5 linked regions of the Homo sapiens genome follow. The protein of the gene in region 3 purifies or fractionates together with the protein of the main gene of each other region. This does not show direct contact. Each region holds a gene or a part of one and is shown on either strand. Other genes may lie near its edges. The genes, in order: FHIT, RRP36, FDCSP, SLTM and SCAF11.

Region 1 (3,577 bases), on a different chromosome or scaffold from region 3:
TTTATTCTTGTATCTCACTAAACATTAACAGAGGTTTTCATTCACTGCCTTCATTTAGTCTCTCCAGAAACACGGTTTGCAACATAAGCTTGATAAACCCACTCTGAACTGAACTACCTGCCTGAAGGGGACTCAAATGGTTTGACATACAACACATACACACAAAGCATTTGGGGGAAGTTTAGCTACTCTTAACACAGACATGGCAGCAAAAAAAGAAAGAAAAAAATCTGTTTGAGAAGAAGATGAGCACTTTTAGTCAGAGCCTTCATAACCTGAAAACACTGGCTTTCTTTATCTGGTCTCTTTGAAGCTCTATGGTAAAGAGCTAAGGAGGGGAGGAAGAATGGCAAACATTCAGTTTAACTAACAGGCTGAGTACAGAGTCCTCACATTTTGAAAGTGTGTCCTTCTAAAGGGCAATTACAGAGTCATCCAATTTCAGAGCCATGAAGGACTTTATACATTGATACCCCAGCCCTTTCCATAGAGGGCCTGAAGGAGCTCATGGTATGTTACTACGGATTTACTCAATTCCCTACTGATGACTCACCATGGACATCCTTCTCCCAACCTGACAACTGTTGGCTCAACCTCTGCCTAAAAATCTTCAGTGACTGGGGATCTGATTTCTTCACTGGTCAGTGGGCCACACCCAACCAGTGAATCTAGCTTCTAACTAATCTGTGATCAATCTCTGCATCTTGAATTAAAGACAGACAAAAGGTAAGGCCCAACCTAAGCTGCATATCACTGCCACCCTGGAATTAGAGCAGGGCTTAGTCTATGCAGTGCTCAAAAATTAGTTACCATGGAATGAAAATGATTTTTCCAGTCCCAGTTCCAGTAAGCAATTTGGAATGTCTGAATGTCCATTAAATCACTTATCCATTACTCCCACCTGCTTGGTAAACAAGCCTCAGACATCACCTTAGACACTATCCCACGGTCCATCTTGGGGCCAATGGACAGTAGGGTTGCCCTGCATTAGAAATCTCTTTTTTTGGCTGCTACCTAAAATACAAACAATCACATCTGCCCTCCTGGTAAGATATCAGGAGGAGCAAGCCCAATGCCGGGATATGAAAGGGAAGAAAAATCATTTCTGAGAAATCTGTACACTCACCTGCATGGAAAAGGTGAGAGAGGTCCCATGGAAATGTTTTTCCACCACTGTCCCGACTCTCTGGGTCGTCTGAAACAAATCGGCCACTTCATCAGGACGCAGGTCATGGAAGCGCTCCACTGGCCGCAGCGGGCACACAAGGACATCTGTAGCAAGGTCTGTTAAGGCCCATGCTGCTGGCTTTGGGTAGTGTTCTTACCAAGCAGTTCATACCCACAGGATTGAATCCTCTCGGACCAGGGCCTGAACTCTCAAAGACTAAGGAATGAAGAAACAGATATTTACCATCCACTGAACTCCAGAGAGTTGAAAGAGAGCTCCCATACATGGATAATTACACTTTGAAGGAGAAGCTGTGGTATGCAGAAGAATTTCTTGCAAAAGAAAGGGACATTCGTGTACAGACAGACTCAAGTGTATGGTGAGATAATTATGCGAGGAGGCAAGATCTATTCTAGATCATTCTCTCTTGACCCCTATTCTAAAGCTGTGTCCGCTTCAGCAGCCAAAGGCACTAGGTTGAAAAAGCAACTGGAATATCTACTTGGTTTCTCTAGGTAGAACATGGGGATAAATTTTTAATTTAAATTATCTCTTTAGAGAAATAAGAAAATTATGCAATGAACATACAAAAGTAGATGTTTATTTTATTTTTAAAAGAGTATAGACATTCTGAAAATGTACAGTGAACTTTATCCATAACTAAGAGAGGTGCCATGTGGTTAAGCAATTTATGACAAGAGTTCCTCAGACTAATTTTTTTTTTAGAATCCAAAAGAAGACATTTGAAGGTAAATCATGAACGAAAGGTTGTCTGTTTATTCAAATAAAGCATTCTTAATGCATTCTACAAGTTAGACAAGGCAACGTATTTACACTATTGGTCTCAGCAACATATAAGATCTGAGAAAAAAGGATAGAAATTTGATTACTTCTTGATAGGAAATTAATATTCACTGTTACACCATCAATAACATTTCAGTCACTATACACACATGTATGCACACATGTGTATATACACACACTATATATATAAATATTTGTTTAGTTTTTAGATACTAACAAGAGAAACAAACTCTTGTACGTTTTTCTGTTTCTTTTTTCTTGTTGTTTTAAGACAGCATGCTCCTGCCTGGAGCTAAGCAGCTGAGGGGCATAATAAAACCATAATTCTGCAATTGCTAGTCTCACTAGAATATCAACCCCATTCCGCTATTGGTAGAACTCAGAGCCCAAGGGGAAACACAACTGAGCTCAGCTGGTCAGGCCTGATTTCCATAAGAGAGAGGGGAAGAGAAAGAAGAAACTGATTAATTTTGCTCATAATCAGGAAATTCATGTCAATGGTAAACTAGGAAAAGAAGCATTTTTAAAATCAGAGTTCATTTTTCAAGAGAGGAGAAGGGAGGCGTTCACCCACAGGGCATCTGATACTTAAAAAGATAATTATCCATCTTTGGCAGGCCCGCTTTATTATCATGGGTCAATGAACCATTTAGAAATGAAGAATTTCCTTTCATTTCCTTTGAGCAGATTGCCAGCCTCCACTCCCACGAAGCTGCTTTTTCTGTGTTAAAAGGGACCCTTCCCCATATTCCTCCTCCCTGATTTGAATTACACCCTCACTTAGGCCTGACTTCACCAAACCACAGCAAGGGTGACAACCATGCAAGCTTCCAACGAAGTCCATAAGTGCTATGTTAGGCTATGTTCACACACAGCAACTCGGTGGGGGAGGAAGACATTTCACTTCAACAATGGCTTACTGTGAAAACTGGTGGAATAAATCAGACAACCTATGTATCTAATGTAAATTTAGTAATATCAATGACATCCAAAAATGTTTTTTTTCAACACCATAAAAAAACTTATTGTTTGTCAATTTTGCTTGTTTGCATGTTGCTCCTAGAAAAACAACTCAGGGAAAGCAAATTAATTAGAAGAACAGCAGATAGCTTTTGTAATTCTAATGCCACTTTTTATATGCCAATTGTTTTAAAATAATATCACAGATGCAATATAATTTAATTTGGAGCCTCTTAGGCCTTGTTAATGGGTAAATTCCATATTATACATAGGCTATGAAGACACATTTACTTCTGGATCCTGTTTGCTTGGGATTATCTCCTCTGTCAAGATTTCTTAGCCAACATGTAGGATAACCTTTAAAGAATTAAAGTTACTATATTGAATTGAATAAATGTTTTATCCAGTACATATCATGTGTGAAAACTTGTGGAACTGGTTACCACTTCTCCCTATAATCTAGAGTATAGAGTTTTTTTAGCAATAATATTTTTTAAAGGAAGCGAAGGTCAATAGTTATAATTTAGGTTGTATAGCTGACAAGGAGATTTCTCACAGTAGATGAAAACCAAAGGCGACTTCTTAGAGCAGATGAGATTTAAACTGGACTTTAAAAATTGGGGAGTGATTTAACCAGTGGATTGG
Region 2 (2,815 bases), on a different chromosome or scaffold from region 3:
CCGACGTTCTTGCTTCAGGGCCAGGTGCAGCTCCTGCTGTTGCTTTCGTTCCTGCTGTGCCATTTCTTGCTGCTCCTGAGGAGCAAAGATGAGATGGGTGAACGGGAGGGATCTGTTCAGATCTGTGAATATCTCCCACCTTTAATTGCTTTCATTACCCACCACAATTATTACCCACTCACCATTCGCTGAAGCAGTTGCTGCAGTTTCTCATGCTCCTCTCCTGAAAGGTGCTTCTTCAACTGTTTTTTCACAAGCTCCACATTGGAAAATGAGTATCATGGTTAGCATTCTGCAAATGTTAGCTGAAATTTTATGTAAAGCATTATCCTAAGAAGTTCACACACATACACACACACACATTTTTTTTTGAGATGCAGTCTTGCTCTGTCACAGGCTTGAGTGCAGTGGTGTGATCTTGGCTCACTGCAACCTCCGCCTCCTGGGTTCAAGCAATTCCCCTGCCTCAGCCTCCCAAGTAGCTGGGACTACAGGCACGTGCCACCACGCCCGGCTAATTTTTTTTTTTATTTTAGTAGAGACTAAATTTCACCATGTTGGCCAGGATGATCTTGATCTCCTCCTTTTGTATTTTAGTAGAGACTAATTTCACCATGTTGGCCAGGATGGTCCCAATCTCCTGACCTCGTGATCCACCTGCCTCGGCCTCCCAAAGTGGTGGGATAACAGGCATGAGCCACCGCACCCGGCCAGAAGTTCACATATATTAACTTGATAACACCAAGACAGTAACTGTTTGTTTGGAGACAGTCTTGCCCTGCTGCCCAGGTTGGAGTGCAGTGACACGATCTTGTCTCACTGCAACCTTTGTCTCCAGGGCACCAGCAATTCCCATGCCTCAGCCTCTTGAGTAGCTGGGACTATAGGCATGCAACACCACACTTGGCTAATTTTTCTATTTTTAGTAGAGATGGGGTTTCACCATGTTGGCCAGGCTGGTCTTGGAACTGCTGGCCTCAAATGATGTGCTCACCTCAGTCTCCCCAAGTGCTGGGATTACTTACAGGCGTGAGCCACCACACCCGGCCTCCAAGACAGTAATTATTATTTTATTTTTTTATGATTAGAAAACTAAAGCATAGAGAGATTAAGTAACATGCCAATAATCACACAGCTAGTAAACTGATGAGCCAGGATTTGAATATGAACTGAATTGGAGAGAGTTAAATCTGCCCACCACTATACTTCCCACTCCCCCTGCCCAACTCTCTAACCTGTGCCCTCATTTTCCACCCCACAAAATTCCCCATAAACCAGTCTCAAGCTGTATACCTCTTTCTCTTTCGCTCGGATGTCATTCAAGAATTGGTATGTTTTGTCAAACACCTCAGGATTATATTCCCCTGACAGATCATCAAAGCGAGGGTCCCGGGCTACCTTTGGAGAGAAGAGAGAGAATATAAAACACAACTGTTCAATCTCCTTTCACTGAGAAAAAGTGCTTCCTGTCTCTTCCTCATCTTTCTTTTTTTTTGCTTTTTGAGACACAGTCTCGCTCTGTCGCCCAGGCTGGAGTGCAGTGGTGCAATCTCGGCTCACTGCAAGCTGTGCCTCCCAAGTTCACACCATTCTCCTGCCTCAGCCTCCTGAGTAGCTAGGACTACAGGCACCCGCCACCACGCCCGGCTATTTTTTTTTGTATTTTTAGTAGAGACGGGGTTTCACTGTGTTAGCTAGGATGGTCTCAATCTCCTGACCTCGTGATTCGCCCACCTTGGCCTTCCAAAGTGCTGGGATTACAGACATGAGCCACTGCGCCCGGCCTCTATTTTTTTTTTTTTTTTTTTTTTTGAGACAGAGTCTTACTCTGTCCCACAGGCTGTAGGGCAGTGGCATGATCCTGGCTCACTGCAACCTTCACCTCCCAGGTTCAAGCGATTCTTGTGCCTCAGTTTTCCAAGCAGCTGGGACTACAGGCACACACCACCATGCCCAGCTAATTTTTGTATTTTTAGTAGAGACAGGGTTTCACCATGTTGGCCATGCTGGTCTTGGAACTCCTGATCTCAGGTGATCGCCCACCTCGGGCTCCCAAAGTGCTGGGATTACAGGCGTGAGCCACAGTGCCTGGCCTTCTTCCTTACCTTTTTACTAATGGGAACAACCTGACGTAAAAATGGTACTCGGATCTTGGCTGACATTTCCAGAGGCCTATGGAGAAATTAAAAGCCAAGTCAAGAGGACTCCAGTGTTGGTCAAAGGCTTCCCACCTGTCACCCAAGACAACATACCTATTCAAGGTCCCAGTTATCTTCCAACTTCTAGGGCAAGCCTTGCTTACCTGTGCTTATCTGCAACACATGCATTTTGGATAGGTGGTCTAGAAGCTTGTTTCTTAGGACTATTTCCAGCTACCAATTGTTTGTACGTCTTAGTCCCCACTTGGCTCTGCAATTCCAACAGCTCCTCAAATGACATGTTAGATGTGCCTGTGGAAGTGGGGAGGGACATACAACTCAGCTCAGCATGTCCCACTGCAGAAAAGACATCTTCCCATCCCCATTCCTTAGCTAGCTAATCCTAATACCCCATCAGACCAATCATTATTAGAAGTCCTAGGCAGCAGAGGCTGTGATAGTGTTAAACTCTCCAACTATTTCAGCAACCTGGGGCCTCATCTTGCTAAGGAAGGTGTATATGTAAGGTCAAAGGTGCACCAAACCATAGTCCCTTCTTTTTCTCTTTTACTCATTCTTTTACTCTCTCTTTTACTCATTCACAGGTTTCCCCAGAAGGGCATCTGCCTCCCTTGCTCAGTTACCATTGCCAGTGTCCTGGTCCACATGCTCAGCAT
Region 3 (4,327 bases):
GGGCATAGTCACAGTTAAATGTCAAAAGAATTGAAGTAACACAAGGACAGAAAATCATTTATGGTTTTCACAATTCAGTGGCAATTGCCAACCTCCATTAGAGCTATTTCAGATAAAAGAAATTGAAGTAGAATAAATTGAACGACAGGTTTTAGGTAAGGAAATGGATAATACACACACACACACACACACACACACACACACACACACACACCTGTCATCCCCATCCCTGGGGAAATGTACTATGAGCCCCAAATTGGTCAAAATATGTACAATAACATAACAGGTTTAATATATTAAGTTTCTGATTCAGGCAGTTTTCTTTAAATCATTGAGATAAGATTAAACGTTGAGTTATAGGTGAAGGAAGTAGTTTAATGTTTCTCTGGCTTTGTGCTGATTTTTCTAACCTTCTGTTAACAGTGACAGTATAAGGCACCAGTTATAAATGTGGGTTTTAGAACCAAATTGCTGGTGCTCAATTCAATATCTGCCAGAGACTAGCTGTAATACCCAGACTGATTACTAATATTCTCTGCTTCTCAGTCTCAAAATGGGATGGTGTTGATCATAGTACTTTCCTCTTAAGGTGGTTGTTTGGGAGATTTAATTATATTATATATATAAAGCATTTAAATTTGTGCTTCAGCACTTAAAGTCCTCAAAAAAACTTACCTGCTATTATTTTTCTGAGTTGCCTTGAGAACTGAATTCTAGAAAAAATAAAAAGAAGAAAAGGGACTTTGATGCACTACTACTACAATCTGGACTATATAACCTCTTTTGAAGTAGAAATCGAACTCAATAACAGAATATTCTTAAAAGCTCTCGAATTAGTTAAAGCTCAAATTTTATGACTCTTGAAAAAGGCATATACAATATGCACGCATATTTAAGGTAATTCTTGAATGTTTTGTGGGCCCTAGTTTCTGTTCCCGCACTTAATAATGATACCTTTTCTGCTGTAAGTGAATTTTTAGTTGAGAAATAGAGTATAGTGTTCCATAAGGTAAACAAGATGCTGTGGTGCTCCAAAAATACAATTCACTCATCTACGAAGCTCTAATCCTGATAATAAAATGAAGAAGTTGAAAGAAGAATCATGCAAAAGATTTTAATCCCATCTTAAACAATTTTTAGATTTTTTATTTTCTTAAGATTCCAGCACTATCAAATATGCTTTGCAATAGGTTATAATCAATACCAGTAAAATGCTTAGAGGTATTTTAAATTGTGGGAAGTAAAGGAAAAAATTGTGAGAGTAGACAATGGAGCAACAACATGTAAAGTGATAAACTTCAAATATACAAGACACAAAATTTGGAGAAAAAAACCACAAAAGATTTTGGTATTTGGTAGTTTCTAGGAAACTAAACATTGGTTATTCCCCAATTTCAACATATTGAGATAGTTGATGAGTAATAACTGATCCTAGGGGAGAGGCCTTTAAGCCACAGATTTCTCCATTCCATTATACCTTTGAGTATATAAAACAGCTACAATATTCCAGGGCCAGTCACTTGCCATTTCTCATAACAGCGTCAGAGAGAAAGAACTGACTGAAACGTTTGAGGTAAGAAAGGTCTTAAATATCATTGTAAACTAAGATTGTATATCTATTTTGTAAATATAGATATATAGCATCTCTCCATATATTTTTCTTTAAATCATAAAAATTTTAATTGTTGAGACTAAATTGTAATGGTTGCTTGAATTTGTAGACTTAGTAATTAGAAAACCATTTTTAGTATTCTGTTTGCAAAACTTTTTTTAAAATCACCACCCTGCTGTAGTAAATATTTATTTTAGAGTGACCATAAATGAATCTTTCTAGGAGTGGAGCACTGGTGGGGGAGAGTGTGGACAGAGTGAAACAACAGAGCCTCAGGTTTATTTTTAAATTTGTGGCCATCAGGTCAGCAAACAGAGGGAATACGCCCCGCCAGAGATTCTCTAAAGTCTGAGCAAGTGCCAATTTCTTTGGCCTCCTCTTTTATCTTTAAAATATATACAGTACTTACATTCCATTCCATAACATTTTATGTTGATTTTAATATAAAAGTCATTTGTCTTTCCCATAAACTCTTGAATAAAATTAATTATCTAGGAAGATGCATCTGATTTATCTGGAGAATCATTTATTCTACAGCACGCAGCAATAAACTGCTATGGGTATCATGACTTGATAAGTATAAAAATAAAAGGAGATAGCTGGTAATTATGCTGTGTCCTGACTCTAAGATATGATCTGGAAGAGTCTGTAATGTGGATTATTTACTTATTTGCTTAATGTAGTTTTGAATAATTCTTGAAACCAGTTGAAAGAAATTATATTGTAAAGGCCCTGCTTGAATTCTATTCTCTCCAAAACTATTTTCTCAACCTGCCTCTTTCTTCTTCTAAATACTCAAAATATTTTGCAATTTCTACATATGGTATATATCACGCTTTTTTTTCACATTACAGAAATATCTGTATCCATCTTCCATGTGGAAGTCTCAAGTGGAAGAAATTATGCTTTATCATTGTATCCCTGAAAGCACCCAGCATTGTTGCTTTGCACATAGAAAGTGGACTATGTATATGTATGTGTGTGTCTGTGAGGAGTATGTGTGAGTGTGTGCATGTGTGTGTTTGTATAATTTTTACTCTTGATTTCCTACATTAACAATCTGCCTGTAGAAGTCTGAACTTGACCGGAATTTTACATTCCTGTCTTCTCAAAATTATTAGATTATCTGGTACTTTTTTGAATTTGAATTCAAATTTTGATTAGTATCAGAAAATAAAGGCAGAGATCAAAACTTTGCTACATTTTTTACACTGCGTTCTTTTGTCTCATAGATGTATAGGAAACATCAAAAGGTGATAAAATTTCCCTAGAATCTCCACTATCTCAAAGGTACTTCAAAATGATAATGATATTAAAAATTGACATTTTCCCCAATGTAAAATATTAAATTAAATAGTCTTTAAAAAGCTTTGTAATGTATTTACTTATAACAATGTAACAGTGAGCTTAAAAGATCCATAAATCAGGGACTTTCCAAACTGATATTACAGGCAAACTTCAGAGATACTGCAGGTTCAGTTCTTGACCACCACCATAGAATGAGTATCAAAGTTAGGCAGGTCAAATGAATTTCTTGGATTCCCAGTGTACATAAAAGTTATGATTACACTACAGCATTGTATGTTAAGTGTAATAGCAGTATGTCTAGAAAAACAACATACATATCTTAATTAAAACATACTTTATTGCTCAAAAATGCTAACAATTATCTCAGTCTTCACTGAGTCATAATCTTTTTGCTGGTGTAGGGTCTTGCCTTGATGTTGATGGCTGCTGAATGATCAGGGTGATGGTTCCTGAAGGCTAAGCTGGCTGTGGCAATTTCTTAAAATAAGTCAACAATGAAGTTTGACACACAGATTGACTCTTCCTTTCACAAAAGATTTCTCTGTAGCATGCGATGTTGTAGCATTTTGGAGCATGTGAAGCATTTTGCCCACAGTATTTCTTTCAAAATGGGACTCAACCCTTGCAAACCCTGCCACTGCTTTATCAATTAAGTTTATGTAGTATTTTAAATCATTTACTGTCATTTGAAAAATATTCACAGCATCTTCACCAGGAGTAGATTCCATCTCAAGAAACCACTTTCTTTGCTCATCCATAAGAAGCCATTTTTCATTCATTCAAGTTTTACCGTTAGATTGAAGCAATTAAGTCACATGTTCAAGCTTCACTTCTAATTCTAGTTCTCTTGCTATTTCCACCACATCTGCAAGTTACTTCCTCCACTGAAGTCTTGAATCCCTCAAAGTCATCCACAAGAGTTGGAATCAACTTCTCCCAAACTCCTGTAATGTTGATATTTTGGCCTCCTCCTATGAATCACAAATGGTCTTAATGGCATCTGGAGTGGTGTATATTTTACAGAAGGTTTTTAATTTACTTTGCCCAGATCCATCAAATAAATCACTATCTGTGCCAGCTATAGCCTTACAAAATGTATTTATTTAATAATGAAACCTGAAAGTCAAATTTACTCTTTGATCCATAGGCTGCAGAATGGATGTTGTGTTAGCAGGCATGAAAACAACATTCATCTCTTTGTACATCTGCTTCAGAGTTCTTGGGGGCTCAGGTACATTTTCAATGAATGGCAATATTTTGAAAAAAACATTTTTTCCTAAGAAGTGAGCTGAAAATATTAGTAAACCATGCTGTGTTAGATGTACTGCCATCCAGGCTTTGTTGTTCCATCCACAGAGCACAGGAAGAGTAGATTTAGTATAATTCTTAAGGGCACTACGATTTTCT
Region 4 (4,218 bases), on a different chromosome or scaffold from region 3:
ATTATTTCTAATAATAAGAGATAAATGATGTTCCTAGTCAAAACTGAAAAAGGGATATACAGAGAAATTAAAAGTAGGTGAGAAAGGAATAAATCATGTTTATTTTCAATGCTAAAATAATAGTCAACTCAAACAACCTGGGACTATGATTAATACACAGTACCTGTCAAACTAGCACAGCATGCTAGGTAAAAGATATGAATCAAAACTACTGCAAGACACATGGTTAATTCCTGATATACTTATTTCTGAATTTCTATCGTTTTCCATTTTGAAATAGCCTCTGGTTTGTTGGCAGTCTTCTCATGACAAGCTTCTTTAAATACAGAAAATGTATCTCTCAAAGTGATACACTGAGTCAGAGTTATCTTAAAAGCTACCTTTAAGATAACTTTTTTACTTCTCTAAACTACATCCCCACCTCTCCCAGGGAATGCTTATTAGCCCTTTTCAATTTCCTTTGGCACAAACAGGGGACTCTCCTAACCTAGGAAGACTTAAAATAGTGAGTTGTCCTCATCTCTGATACCCAGGTGTGCTTAAGATCAAAATTTAATATTCCCTTTTCAATATTAATCCATTCATTTTATTTTAGTTGCAATCATTCAGTGGTTGGGAGTAACACTTGGATCACTTAAAGCAGTAAAGAAAATTAGATTACAAAAAATGCAGCAGCTGTTCATGACAAACTCTGCATGAAAATTGTAGGTAAAGACCAGAATCCAGATATATCATGTCCACCCTCTGCCACTGTCCTTATAGGAGGGAGAAATTTGCAGTTATTCAAATAAAGGTTTCATTTACCAAGAAGCTTTAAAAAATACCTAAGTTCCATTCATACTGCAAAACGTTCATTTAAAACCACTTTTAGCTAGTCACTAAATCATTATATCCTAGAAATAAATATATTTTGCTCTAGCTTAAAAGTTAAAAATAAGAATCTTTAACATCCCTATAATTTAAAACTTTTTTAAGCTAATTAATCATGGATTTTTCCCTCTACCTTGTTAGTATGATTGGTGAGGTCTTTTTGAATTTCACTAAAAATTAGGAGGTATAATGGCATAAATGCAAATTAAGTTCACCAAGTCAAACAAAGTACTAAACATAAAGGTTATAGAATTTTAATATACTAAAGAAAACAGCAAGGAGGCAAGGTAAAAGATTTGGTAGGAATTCCATCAAAACTCTGCCAATTGTGGGGCAAGGTAGACATGTGTTAAACTGTATTTTATTCAGGTCTTCACACTATGAAGCATCATTACACAACTTGACTTTGTAATTTTTTCCGGAAGCAATAAAGAACTGTTCTCACTTTCTAATCAGCTTCAGCCGAATCTTAAGGGCTACAAGTCACCCAAAGCCTGGCAACAGTAACTTTTCTTCCTTGACCCAAGAAGGCAGACTGCCAGAGGGAAATAGCAAAGAGTAGCACTATATAAACAGGGCAAGAGGCACAAGAGCAGAGGCAAGTTATATAACCAAAATATATTTTAAAACATGTTCATAACTCGTAACAACCTTTGCCTTTAGTTGGTTTCTTGTTTGGAGTATCAGTTGAAACAGTTAATTCAATATTATCTGGATCGCCTCCTTCCTCTTCAATAGCCTACATTAGAAAGAGAAGTTAATATGCTACACAATCTATCTAAACTTATTTTATAAAAACGAAATGAAAAAAAATTTAGCAAACCTCAAGCCTCAAGACATTAGAATTGCCAGTCATTTCATCAACCGACTTCAAAAATGAGCAATTAAACTACACGAAAGAGTGAGAGAAACTTTCAGGGGAAAAAAATCATTAGGTATCAAAATCGCAAGGAGTTTTAAATTCTACCGTGTCAAGATAATTAAATATCACATCATACTGGCCAAAAATCCAAATATGTTCTATTGCAGAAAAGTTGCTAGCTACTAAAGTAAATAACTAAAAAGAGTTTTCCTAGTTTCTGTAATGCAAACTTACTGCTCCTCTGCTACAATTCCAACGCTCACTCAAACCAGAAAGCTAATCAGGAAAGAAAAAGTAATTATTGCGCTGATGCAAAAACTAAAAGCCTAGTGGAAAACAAAAACTCTGTCACCCACCCATCAACTCCCACTACCAATTCCCCCTCAAGATGGGGAAGAAACGGTTGGGCACAATTAAACGGTAACTTCGCAGAAGTCACCAAAGTAACCATTCCCTCTGAGGCCAAGAAATGCACACGCTCACCATGGCTAAAGGCTGGGGAGCCAGCGCCTCCCAGGTCTCCGCGATCGCCCTTGGGAGGCCGCGCCGGCCGGCCGCAACCCTCGCAGCCTGGCGGGGACGTCCCGGGGAGGCGGAGGCACGCTGGGCTGCGGTGGCCGGTCCCTCGCAGGCCCGGCCCGGCCCGGGGCGCGGGGCGGGGGCACCGCGGAAGGGTCCCCGTCCTCCACGCTCGCGGGAGCCGCCCCTGGCCTCCCTACCATGCCGTTCCGCAGGTCCCAGCGGCTGCGGGCAGCCGGAGGCTGCGGCGGAAGCGGGGCGCCGAGGCGCGGCCTAAGTTCCCCTTCCCGGTCCTTTCCGGTCCTCGCCGGGCCTCACCTGCTTGAGTCGGGAGATGAGCACGGTCTTGACTCCGGTGATGTCTAAGTTCCGCCGCTTCAGCTCGGACTTCAGATCGATGACCCGCAGATCGGTGATCTTTTTACCTTCCGCCTGACCCGAGGCGGCCGAGGCTGCCACCGCACCGGTAGCGGCAGCCATCTTAGAAGAGCAGCGCGCTGCCGAGGCAGCGAGTGGGCTGCAGGGCGGCGGCAGCAGCGCCAACTTCCACCCAGGCCTCGGCGGCCGCCGGCGCCGCGCAGCGCTGCGCACAATGAGCCGCTGGCCCCTCCCCCGGTCCGCCACCCTAGCGCAACCTGCAGCAGCAGCCGCCAGCACCCGGATGACGGCCGCGCGTGCGCGTTGGCGCAGGGACCGGCAGCGGCGCGCTCGGTCGAGCGGGCCGCGGCCACTTGGGCGGTGCGCTCCCTTGTGTGGACTGGGAGGTCGGGCACGTCCTACCGCAGCAACGTCCGCCGCGCCGCCGTTCTCTCGTCGCTTCGTTAGCCATTTTCTTGCAACGTCTTGAGTCTTGAGCAACAACGATGTGCGGGCACTGAATGACATAGTGCGCGCGTTACTCAACACAAACCGAGGGGGCGCGTGCGCGCGCTGAACCTCTCAAGGAAATACTTTATCAGTTCTGCTGAATAATCGAAAAATTGTCGCCGGTGTGCACCAACGAACTAGGTTCCCCGAGTTCCATTCAAAAGACCTCAAAGCAGTTCTAGGGCTGTTAGTCCAAAGAATAGGAAGGGCTGGCCTTTGACACATGGCTCATTGGCTGTCTCAGGAGAAAACATCATCGCCCTGCCCATGGCAGCTTAGGTTATTCTAGGGCTGCCCTTCCTCACTTGAAAAACAGGAAAACTTCTTTCTTGTTGGCCTCAGGTTTGCTATCCTCCCCGGTAGACCTGATGGCTCAACACGAAATTGTTCAATGAAAGAGAAAACTAGCTTATAAGTACTTGTTGCCGTTATCATATACTGTGTTCACTATTTTGCCCCCCAAAATTTGGGATTCCAAGAACAGTGAGCATCTTCTTATGGAGGATCGGCCTGTACAAGTGAGTACCTATTTGTAATTTTACCTTGTATTATTCATTATCAAAGTGCAAGCATTGATAAAATAAAACGATTCTATAAATTCCATAAGGTGATTATGATGCACAATTAACTATACTGTATTTCCTGGTTTTACAACTTAAATTCCTGAGATCTGACTCACTTTAGGTTACTTTTTCTGATTGGCTCAAAAAAAAGGAAGACTGGACATTATAAAAGAATACCTGACATTAGGGTAGTTCTTTACAGTTTATAAGGCACTTTGACGTACAGTAACCCCCTTAATCCTTCCCAAGTCTGTCAAGTAAATCTCCGTGAGGCTTAGAGAGATTAAATGACTTGCCCATGTTCACACAGCTGGTATGTGGCCGAGCTGTGCTCAAATCCCAGGCTCCTGATTCCAAATCCAGCTCTGTCTCTGCTACAACATTGGATTCACAATAATAGAAGTTTAGAATGCAAGACTCCTTAGAAATCTTCTGGCCCATCACTTGAGGTCAGGAGTTCAAGACCAAACTGGCCAAGATACAGGGTTTAGTAGAAACCCCGTCTCTACAAAAAATACAAAAATTAGCCGGGTGTGG
Region 5 (3,049 bases), on a different chromosome or scaffold from region 3:
GTGTCAGGTGCCTGTAATCCCAGCTACTCAAGAGGCCAAGGCAGGAGAATTGCTTGAACCCGGAAGGTGGAGGGTGCAGTGAGCTGAGATGGCGCCACTGCATTCCAGCCTGGGCAACAGAGCGAGACTCCATCTCAAAAAAAGAAAAAAAAAGAGAATATTATACAGCCAGTATAAATCATGCTGTAATTTTTACTAAAATGGAAAGTTCTCAGTACGTCAAGTGAAAATGAAAGGTTACAACATATTATGTGCAGTTTGCTTGGCATTAGTTATTACCTTTGGTAGGATTACAGGTGATTTTTCTCCTTTTTCAGTCTCTTCTTTTACACATTTACTAAAGTTTTTCTAATTTCTTACAATAATTATGTAATCAGGGGAAAATGCCATTAAAATATATGCTTATAGCTAACTCTAAGCTTGCTTTAGAGCTTGGGTATTACGTAACCATGATGCGAATGACTGGTACAAATCCAAGTAACACTTCAATACGTTTGTAAGGGATTATAATTGAAAAGTCACCATTCCCCTGGAACCTTAATAATAAAATGTTAAAGACATTAGTTTATCAAAAGAATTTATTAGAAAATATTACACACTACATACATATTTATTTAAGAGTATAATTTCAGTAGACAGCACTCCAACTTCATAATACAAACAATATCTCATGGACCCTGGGGCAATCACTGTGCTTCTGAAGCTACATCTTTTGGATGGAACATTCCAGCAGTACACACTGTGGCCATTTAAAGGAAGGTAAGAGAAAAAAATGTGATAATTACCAAAACAAATTTTAAAAAGCACAAAACTTTTGGAATGTTAATGGATAACTACTATTAGTCTCAAAATTCTAGGCATTTCTATAAAACATTGGTCAATGTGACTAGTAAGTTAACGGGACCAAGGTTTCAAAGATCAATACTGAACCTTGATAAATAATAAGAGGAAATGTAACTCCACAAAATGTTTCTGATTAAGTTTGTGCCCATGCAAAATTAACATAAATTTCTTAACTCAAGAATGAGGAATATTAAAGCAATGTATTTTTTCAACATAAAGCATGCATTTTCTAATACATTCTTAAACATTTCAAAATTTTAAAAGTTCGAATTCTAATCAAGTAGCTATTAATGCAGTCTAACCAGTGCCCCAAATCAGACATGGAACACACACTTGTTACTGTCACGGAAATAATTCATGGGAGTGCTACTAAAGATATATGAGACTTCAACTCTTGACCACATCACTTTTTCTCCAAAACTTTAGAACTTGTTTGCAAAAGCTAAATGGTATAAAACACATTTTAAAATGTCACCCAATTCTCAAATGTCACTGAAAGAAAATGCAGGAAAAGTATGTATTGTGTGATTAATCAGCTTAGGCTTAACTCAAAATACTTTCAATGTTCACAAAATTGTTTCTAGAGTTCTAATCTAAAACAACTAAGGAGGTGTGCCTTGATATTCTGAAACACTGTCTTAATACTTTATTAGAAGAAATATGCTTGAAATTTCTTTACCATAATCTAAACGCAAACTTTAAAAATATATACCAGTAGAATACCATATTACAAATGCCCAGAAATGTAGAATAAAGGTCAAAAACTGCTTGGAAATATTTTTATGATTACACTCATAACAACAAAGCTTATGAACTAGCACAATCATTATGGGACCAACATTTCAAAATATTTTGCCTATCAAAGCTAGCACCAGGAAAAGTATTATGCACATAAAATTGAGAAACAGATAATCTTTACTTTAGAAAAGCACAGTTCTACAGAGTATTGCTCTGGCTAAATAGTTTAGCTAGTAAAAAGGTCAGTTTATCTCACTGAGGCATGTATCTCCTTGGATCTATTAACTTATCTGAAGAACTTTCCAGGTACTTGGTATGTACTGAAAATTCTTACTGGAATCAGTTTATCATGGAGAAAACCTACTGTTCTTTCAAGATGCCAGTTAAAATAATGGCACAATAAACATTTTAAACTTACCTTTTATAAAAACTGAGATATTCTAGTATTAAAAAGAGAAAAAAAAAAAAACCCAAATCCCTAATCCCTGAAAGGCTAACCAGGACTCCATTATTTAAATTTCCCCTCTGTTTCTAAAACACAGGTTTTACTGTCTAGAATTTTGCAACATGGCTAATGGCTACCACCTGGTCACCAAATTAACACTTCATTCATTGTAAAGCATTTGGGGATTTTCAAGTGTGAAAATATTTCATCAGTGATTAGATAAACAACAACTTTACGCCAGTGCCATGAGTCTTGTAATTCTTAGCCCCAAGGAAGGGAGGATAACAGCCTAACAGCAATTCTCGAATTGGCACAAATAATTTATCGTCTGCAACGGGTAGAAGAAGATACTATGAAAGAACATAATTTCTACAAAGTCAACACTTTTTTTTTTCTTTTTTTTGAGACGGAGATTTGCTCCTGTTGCCCAGGCTGGAGTGCAATGGCATGGTCTCGGCTCACTGCAATCCCCGCCTCCCGGGTTCAACTGATTCTCCTGCCTCAGCCTCTCGCATAGCTGGGATTACAGGCGCCCACCACCACGCCTGGCTAATTTTTGTATTTTTAGTAGAGACGGGATTTCACCATGTTGGCCAGGCTGGTCTCGAACTCCTGACCTCAGGTGATCCGCCACCTCGGCCTCCCAAAGTGCTGGGATTACAGGCGTGAGCCATCATGCCCGGCCGAAAGTCAACAATTTTTCCAAATCTTTTTCCTCAAAGTCTTCAACAAAGACTTTGAACTGCCAAAGTTGTAATCTAGTAAGTCAAACTGCTTATCTCAATTAGGGGTAAACAAAGGCACAAAAGAAAAACAAGCAGCATAACCTTTATTTGGTCATACAATAGGTGAAGAGTGTCTCAATGTTTTGAACACTAAATTTTACTCGTGATAATTTTTTTTCTATCTAGGCAATTTATTCAGATATGTGCTTTAAAAATACACATTAGGAACTTTGCAACTGATATGTTCTATTTAATATTAGAAACATTTTTCATGGTAATACATTATTTAACTTTCTAT

What was found.
Region 1: the proteins of FDCSP (region 3) and FHIT purify together in Homo sapiens (affinity purification with mass spectrometry; one large-scale study listed by BioGRID and IntAct). This does not show direct contact.
Region 2: the proteins of FDCSP (region 3) and RRP36 purify together in Homo sapiens (affinity purification with mass spectrometry; one large-scale study listed by BioGRID and IntAct). This does not show direct contact.
Region 4: the proteins of FDCSP (region 3) and SLTM purify together in Homo sapiens (affinity purification with mass spectrometry; one large-scale study listed by BioGRID and IntAct). This does not show direct contact.
Region 5: the proteins of FDCSP (region 3) and SCAF11 purify together in Homo sapiens (affinity purification with mass spectrometry; one large-scale study listed by BioGRID and IntAct). This does not show direct contact.

The regions. Positions count from the first base shown.
Region 1 is NC_000003.12:60,012,881-60,016,457, forward strand, and holds part of FHIT (bis(5'-adenosyl)-triphosphatase), read right to left. Parts: intron 1,385-3,577; exon of another isoform or gene 1,338-1,384; coding exon of another isoform or gene 1,326-1,337; intron 1,273-1,325; coding exon 1,127-1,272; intron 1-1,126. UniProt on the Homo sapiens protein: Possesses dinucleoside triphosphate hydrolase activity. Cleaves P(1)-P(3)-bis(5'-adenosyl) triphosphate (Ap3A) to yield AMP and ADP. Can also hydrolyze P(1)-P(4)-bis(5'-adenosyl) tetraphosphate (Ap4A), but has extremely low activity with ATP.
Region 2 is NC_000006.12:43,024,620-43,027,434, reverse strand, and holds part of RRP36 (ribosomal RNA processing protein 36 homolog), read right to left. Parts: intron 2,451-2,815; coding exon 2,303-2,450; intron 2,173-2,302; coding exon 2,106-2,172; intron 1,399-2,105; coding exon 1,294-1,398; intron 306-1,293; exon of another isoform or gene 258-305; coding exon 183-257; intron 76-182; coding exon 1-75. UniProt on the Homo sapiens protein: Involved in the early processing steps of the pre-rRNA in the maturation pathway leading to the 18S rRNA.
Region 3 is NC_000004.12:70,224,610-70,228,936, forward strand, and holds the start of FDCSP (follicular dendritic cell secreted peptide precursor), read left to right. Parts: upstream 1-1,514; 5' UTR 1,515-1,573; intron 1,574-4,327. UniProt on the Homo sapiens protein: Can bind to the surface of B-lymphoma cells, but not T-lymphoma cells, consistent with a function as a secreted mediator acting upon B-cells.
Region 4 is NC_000015.10:58,930,835-58,935,052, forward strand, and holds the start of SLTM (SAFB-like transcription modulator), read right to left. Parts: upstream 2,846-4,218; 5' UTR 2,732-2,845; coding exon 2,570-2,731; intron 2,479-2,569; exon of another isoform or gene 2,219-2,478; coding exon of another isoform or gene 2,216-2,218; intron 1,610-2,215; coding exon 1,522-1,609; intron 1-1,521. UniProt on the Homo sapiens protein: When overexpressed, acts as a general inhibitor of transcription that eventually leads to apoptosis.
Region 5 is NC_000012.12:45,918,571-45,921,619, forward strand, and holds the end of SCAF11 (protein SCAF11), read right to left. Parts: 3' UTR 740-3,049; coding exon of another isoform or gene 704-739; 3' UTR 561-703; downstream 1-560. UniProt on the Homo sapiens protein: Plays a role in pre-mRNA alternative splicing by regulating spliceosome assembly.